Linked DNA regions of Homo sapiens. The protein of the gene in region 2 interacts with the protein of the main gene of each other region in a biochemical or structural test. Each region holds a gene or a part of one and is shown on either strand. Other genes may lie near its edges. The genes, in order: HLF and BATF.

The links.
Region 1: the proteins of BATF (region 2) and HLF interact in a test that uses a peptide from one of them, tested with the Homo sapiens proteins (one large-scale study listed by IntAct).

What each region holds. Positions count from the first base shown.
Region 1 is NC_000017.11:55,316,742-55,320,566, reverse strand, and holds part of HLF (hepatic leukemia factor), read right to left. Parts: intron 1-3,825.
Region 2 is NC_000014.9:75,528,664-75,532,488, reverse strand, and holds part of BATF (basic leucine zipper transcriptional factor ATF-like), read right to left. Parts: intron 1-3,825. UniProt on the Homo sapiens protein: AP-1 family transcription factor that controls the differentiation of lineage-specific cells in the immune system: specifically mediates the differentiation of T-helper 17 cells (Th17), follicular T-helper cells (TfH), CD8(+) dendritic cells and class-switch recombination (CSR) in B-cells.

The DNA.
Region 1 (3,825 bases), on a different chromosome or scaffold from region 2:
AGGTGCCAGCCCGGGTTTCTTAGCTTGTGTCTCCTTCCTTTACAGTTTCTGCATGTCTGAGAGTGTGGCCCATGAGCCACACTTCCTTCTTGGAGCAAGGACCCACCGATCTGTCCCAACAGGCTCCTACTCTTTGCCCAGCAGAGGCGTGCTCAGTGAAGCAGAGATCAGAGGCTGGATGAAAGCAGGTGGCTCACCTCACCCTTAAATTACATTTCAACTTTCTTTACTCTCCCTGCTCAACATTTTAAGAACCCTTTTCCTTCAAGGGCACTCATATGCTTTTTTGGGTATGAGTTGGTACAAAAATTTTAGAAGGCAATTTGGCAATATCTATCAACTATTTAAATGGATATACTATTCATCTAGCACTCCACTTCCAGGATTTTGTCCTGTAGCAATCTCCATACATGTGCATGTACACACAAGCATAAACTGTTCACTGCAGCATTATGTGCAGTAGAAAAAATGAGGAAAAACTATGCATAGGAGATTTAACAACCACGTTATGATACAGTCATACAAAGGGATACTTGGCAGCTGTTAAAAATAATGACCCACCTGCACCAGAAAGATGTTCATATGATATGCCACTATGTGGGTGGAAACAATGACAGTTTACACACAAATATGTATGGTCTCATCCCAGTTTGATTAAAAATCATATATTCATAGAAAGAGGCGCAAAAAGATTTATACTAATCTATAAAGGTGGAGCCTCTAGAAGGGGGATTGGCAGAGGCAAAGATGTAAGACTTTCTACCTTTTATATTATTCTGAACTATTACAATATCATATAATAGATACATACACTTTGGTAATTAAAAATAGAAATTAAAAAAAAAAATCTTCAACCTGCCGCTAATCAATGTACTCATATTGGTGGCCAGAATTTACATAATTTACTCTAATTTCTTGTTTAACCATTCTCTAGGCCTTAATTAGCCTGAGTAATATTTTACTGTGGTCAGTGTAAAAACAATCCCTCCTTCCCTGCCCTCCACCCCCACTGCTGCCTCCCTGACAGAAAGGAAAAACTTCTTAAGAAGACTAAGAAACAGGGATCTTCTTTTAGATCTTCCCAATTCACTGATGGTGGCACCTGGTGAATTTTGCAACTCCCCTTTTTCAACAATTTGCAACAGCAAATCCCTCAGTCCTAGCAATGCTACTACCTGCAGTTACATGCCACCCAGAATAAATGGGTCAGGCCAGTGCTTGCACCCCTCAGAATTCCAAGGGGCAGTTGGCATTGAAGGAGGTCACATGGGTTGGGGCCAAAGCTGCAAGGAAAGTCTAAGGTCAGCGGTCCACCCCCAAAACTGCCCATTACCCTCAACAGGCATTTGCCCTGCACAAATACAGAAAGTGTGGGATAGAAACTGTGTAGATACCTCCTATCTGCCATCCACAAACTAGTACTATCATCTTAAATAAAGCACCCCCAGCTTTTTATACATTTCATAACAATATGCAACAGGGTAAAAAAACGATTTTCAAAATAGATGTTACCAGAATTCTTCTGGGTAGGAGGGAGGAGGCTGCTCTTTGAAGAATACCTGGGTGAGCAAGCTAGGGCAGGTGTGCAATGGTTGTTGGCCGAATTTGTTGTCTGTGCTTCTGAAAGCGAGCAGGGGAGCTGGAGGCAGGGGAGAGGCTGGGAGGAGTCAGGCGAGTCAATGACGTCATGGTGGTGAGGGGGCCCAAAGTGGTGAAGCCTCCAGTTAACAACAGTGGTGAAGCCTCCAGTTCTGATGGAAGTTATTTGTGTTTTGATAGAAGCCTGGGTTCCAATCCCTTCACAGTATCAGTAAATCTATACCCAACAATGTGCCTGGGAGTGCGGTTTCCAAGAGCACTCAAAAGAGGACTTGATTTAGGATGTATCAGAGTCTGCACACGGGGGAACAGGAGCCCAGGAGGCGAAGGGGTACATAAGAACAAGCCCCTGGAACACTGTAGAAACTGCATGTATGTGATGGGGGAGGAATGGGGGGTCCCACCATAGGCCACAGGCTTGATGTGGTGTAAGACAATTCTGACCAGGTCTTAATGACCAGGGAGTCACCAGCTGACTTCAGGGTAACAACCAACTTCTCTCTAACTTATTAGAGCTCTTCTCACTTCTAAAGTGCTCTCATTTCCCAGCCTCACCTGTCCACACATGCAGATGAGCCAGCCAAGGTGTGGAATGCAAAACAAACCTTTCAGGTGGGAGGGAGGGGAGCTGGGAACCGGGTCCAGAAGAGGATACAGAAGGCAGGAATGACGAAAGGAGTGTCCTGGACTAGAAAAGCCTGCTCGCCTCCCTTTGTTATCGCAGAAGGGTTGCGGGCAGGGGGGAAGCGGGATTTTGAGCGGGGCTGATAAACTTGGCACTCCATCCTCTGCCCCCTTTCCCTCTCCCAGTTGCTGATGCCATCTGGCTACCCAGTTACCTCCATGCAACAAGGGACCCACTTAGCCCCGCCCCACCCAACAGATCAACACTCCCTGTTTCTCACCAGACTACAAGTTCCATGAAGGCAGGAACAGTATCAGTATTGGCTCACCTCGGTATTCCCAGCCCCTGATACAGGGTTAGAGGGTTGGCACACACTAGCATTTGAAAAAATTCATCAAGTGAATGAATGGACCATTAAAAGCATTTAAAAAATCAAGGTAATTAAATGGATTTTCAGCTAGGTACCCCAGCATGTCAACCTCAATTCTCCCTTCTTTCTCCAGCGCATGCATGCTAACCCTAATGATTGGCTCAAGAGAGGAAGTTCAGGCAGCTACAGGGAAGATCATTTTTAGTGGGGCCATTTCATTGAACTGGTTTACTTGTCCAATGCTGGGGGCCAGAAACACCTTCTCCTCCATCTACCCTTAGCTCAGACCTTTCTGCCAGAAGGAGAAACATGTTACAGCTCTGCTTCCTGCTTTATATTAGCTCATGGTCTTTAGTTTGAGACTTCGTCCACAACTAAAAAATATCCAAGGACACCTGGCAGGACAATGTTCCTGCCCATTCCCCACCTGCTATGTGGAAAGGTCAGGCCTGACCATGACAGCAGCAATATGTGTAATTCCAGCACAGACGGTTTTTGTCTGGCCTCTTTGTTGCCAAGGTTACCTGGGTTATTAACTAATCTTGCTCTTTGATAAATCTGGAGACTTTGTGAAAGTCTGGCTGGAAGTTCTGTCTATCACTCATAGCAGCATCCTTTCAAACTACCCTCCATTCAAGAGAAAATCCAGGTTGAACAGGATCCCTGGCTTTAGTTTAAGATACGAGGCTTTAAAATACACAAAAAAGGCCGGGCGCGGTGGCTTACACCTGTAATCCCAGCACTTTGGAAGACCGAGGTGGGCAGATCACAAGGTCAGGAGATCGAGACCATCCTGGCGAACACGGTGAAATCCCGTCTCTACTAAAAATACAAAAAATTAGCCGGGCGTGGTGGCGTGCGCCTGTAGTCTCAGTTACTCAGGAGGCTAAGGCATGAGGATGGCTTGAACCGGGGAGGCGGAGCTTGCAGTGAGCTGAGATCGTGCCACTGCACTCCAGCCTGGGCAACAGAGTGCGACTCCATCTCAAAAAAAAAAAAAAAAAAAACACCATAAAAAATTGGATCACTAAGAAGACAAGACTAGGAAAGGCATCTCATTGAAATAAGGTACCTAATTGCCCAAGACCTGAGCCCATGGTGCCCCTTTTTTACCCCATCTCAGTCTAACCATCAATGTCCTGACTAGTTTAGATTTTCTGGTGTTTTTACCATGTGATTTCCTTTTTTGATTCTCAGGGTGACAGCCATTGATTTGTCACCCATGGGCCCC
Region 2 (3,825 bases):
CATTTGATATACCAATTGTATCTATCTATATATAGTACCTATCTATATATGTTGATATCATGATATATATGACATATATGATATCAATTGTACAATGGATATACTGTATTGAAAGTAAACATGTCTTTACTTTCTTGATCACGCCTGATGATGGCTGGGGGACAGTGTAGATTTTGGAGGATATTGCTTAAAAGACAAAAAAATTAATTCATGTAGAGATTCAAGGAAAATATAGGTTAGGGAAGATGAATACATCTTCATCAGAGTTTGAAGAAAGAGGCAGTAAAACTTAATGGTTAGGAAAATGGGTTCTGACGTCAGACAGACCTAGTCACAAGCTGTGTCATCTCCATCAAGTTACTTAATGCAAGGAATTATAAAATACAGCTTTTATGCAGATTAAATGAGATGCTGCAGGGAGAGCACTTGAGGCACAGTGGTTAATACATAGTCGTTTGTTCAATTAACATGGTTTTTTCTTAAAAGAAATTCATAGCAATGGAGACAGAAGGGTCGCATCTCTTTCCATAGATGGTTCACTGATTCTACATTGAACTTTTTAAGGGTGGAACTAGCCTGAACATTCCTGACCTGTGACTTATCTGTGCCAACAAACATTATGGCATGGTCTCCCAGAGAGAGCAAAAGAATTCCAGGAGTGAAATAGGACCGTAAGCATCCTTCTCTGCCTCCTCAGAAGGCCAAGAACAATAGTGCTACCCAAACATCTTTTCCTCCATTACTCAATTTTTCTCCAATTGTAAATACCGTATTTCTCACAGTGTTAGCTCAAAGCTTCATTTAATGCATAATTTATACTCATGACTTTTCTGTCATATATGACAAAGCACATCCCTGGAGCCTGTAAACCTCTCTTTTTTCTTATACTGGTGTGAGACTCCTTCAGGAGGCAGCCCCAGGCAAGCACCTGGCCCACTTCCATCTAAGACAGTACCTAAATCTCAAGCTTTCAAACTTGGCTGTTACTCTCACTTGCTTTCAGCTCCATCCACCAGGCCAGATATGACTTGTCAACAGCTCGGCTCAGGGCTAACACTGCTATTTGCCACTGCTCCCGGCAACTCCACTGATTTTAGCCTTTTCATGAATAAAGCTTCTTAATTGACCTCAGCTCTCTTTTCCACTGATCCTGGTCTTTGACTTGAAATCCTTCCAGCTGTACGGCACCAGATAGCCATGACCAACCAACCAAGATGGCTACACAAAGGAAACGGATTTGCCATCTTTTATCATATAGTACTGTGGACCTTAGAGTCACTCAAATCCCAACTTACAGTTGGTTCTCCCAAGGGCTGAGATATTTATGTATGATGTTCAAAAGATAACGTCAAGATTGAATACTCTTCCATGTCGTGATGGAAGATTATTCAATGTTTGATGTCAAAATTAGAAAAGAAATCCTCCTAATGCATGTGTGGTAATGATCAATGCTGAGAATTTTGATATCTATATTATAAAGATAAAAGCATGTGATAAAAAATCCCAAACTGTATAAAAGGTAAAGAATGCCAAGTATCTCCCTCTTGCTTTAGATCTTTAGTCCTACTTTTCAGAAATAAATATCATTAACAATTTTTTATAATCTATTTGAAAAAGTTTGCATTTATACTTATGCATATATGTAACTTTTTCTTTTTATTAAAAACACAGAAGGGGCTGGGTGCTGTTGCTCACACCTGTAATCCCAGCACTTTGGGAGGCCAAGGTGGGCAGGGCAGATCACTTGAGCTCAGGAGTTCGAGACCAGCCTGGGCAACATAGTGAGACCCTGTCTCTAAAAATAAAAAATAAATAAATAAATAAAACATTAAATTAAAAAACTAATGGTAGCAAACTATGGACTATATTTATGCCTTTTTAACTTAAAGTACAGAAGTGATAATCCTTCCAGATTAGCACATTCAGATGTAACTCATTATTTTAACATATCTGCAATATTCCACAGAATGGACAATAATTTATTGAATCCCTTATTGGTGGATTTTTTTAGCTTATGTTCAGTCTTTCCTATAAGAAACAATGCAGCAATGATTATCTTTACATGTACAGAATTGTATGATGTGTGGATTTGTTTGTGAACACACTCCTGGATGTCAAATTGCTGAGTCGCAGGGTATGTGCACCTATAATTTGAATGGACGTGGGCAAATTGCCTTCTACCAGGGTTATGCAGACTCTACTACTAGCTGTGTGTGATGGTGCCTGCTTCTCCATTACCTTGGCAACATCGTGTATCAACAACATGTTTCATCTTTGCCAGCCTCACTGCTGCTTTAATTGGCATTTTCCTAACTAAATAAGGTCTACCATCTTTTCACACATTTATTTGCCACTTATTTCTCTTTTCTGTAAATTGCCTATTCATAGTCATTGTTCATTTTTCTTTACTTTTTTTTTTTTTTTTTTGACGGAGTCTCGCTCTGTCTCCCAGGCTGGAGTGCAGTGGCGCTATCTTGGTTCACTGCAAGCTCCGCCTCCCGGGTTCACGCCATTCTCCTGCCTCAGCCTCTCAAGTAGCTGGGACTACAGGCACCCGCCACCACGCCTGGCTAATTTTTTGTATTTTTAGTAGAGACGGGGTTTCACTGTGTTAGCCAGGATGGTCTCGATCTGCTGACCTCGTGATCCGCCCGCCTCGGCCTCCCAAATTGCTGGGATTAAGGCGTGAGCCGCCGCGCCCGGCCCATTGTTCATTTTTCTTTTGGGTTGTTAATCATCTCCTATTCATAAGAGCTCTCTCATATAGTAAGTAAACATACCTTTTTTGGTCATATGTATTACAGATATTTTTCCTCAGCTTGTCATTTGCCTTTGATTTTGCATACAGTATTTTGATCTATAAAGAAACTTTTACTTTTTATGAATAAAAGTAATGTATATCAATCTTTTCCTTTATGGCTTCAGGGTTTTATGTTTTATTTAGAAAATAATTCCTCATTCCAAGATAAATTTTTAATGGTTATTTGTCTTTTCAAGTTTCTTTAGCTTCCTTTTTTTAAAAAATTTAACATTTACCATGTTGGCCAGGCTGGTCTCGAACTCCTGACTTCAAGTGATCTGCCCACCTTGGCCTCCCAAAGTGCTAGGATTACAAGCGTGAGCCACCGTGCCCAGCCCATTTTGTATTTATACTTGTGTCCTAGGAGTTGAAATATGTATTTGGGTCTTAAAATCTGAATTTGTTTTTGGGTCTGTTTCCATATTCTATCCTGTTCAATGTTCTGTCTTTTCCACATTGTTTTGATTTCTGTATTTGTGTTTCACTTTAATATGTTGGTCAGTTAATCTTTTTTCATTATACTTCTTCTTTAGAATTTTCCTGGCAATTGTCATATGATTTTTTTTCACTGGAAACTTAGAATAGCTAATCTAGTTCTTGCCCAAATCCCAGAAAACCCTATTGGGTTTTTTATTGGGATCTCATTAAATTTATCAATTAACTTAAGGAAAATTGCTAACTTTACATAAGGTATATCTTTCCAATTATTTGAATCTTTTAAAAATCATTTAGGATACACTCTTCATAATTTTTGTTAAATTATTCCTTCCTTCCATTTGCTGTTGTCATTGGTATTATAAACAGGATCTTTCCTTCCATTAATTTCCTAATTGGTTATGTTTTGCATATAGGAACGTTATTACATTTTGTTTTAATTTTAGAAGCTGACTGCATTCTCTTATTATTTCAAATAATTTTTCAGCTGATTATCTTAGGTCCACTTATTAGCTATTGATATCTTTTAGAAACTAACTGGTCAAGTTATGCCTTTCTCTTTTTTAATCAACATCTGTACTATATACAAT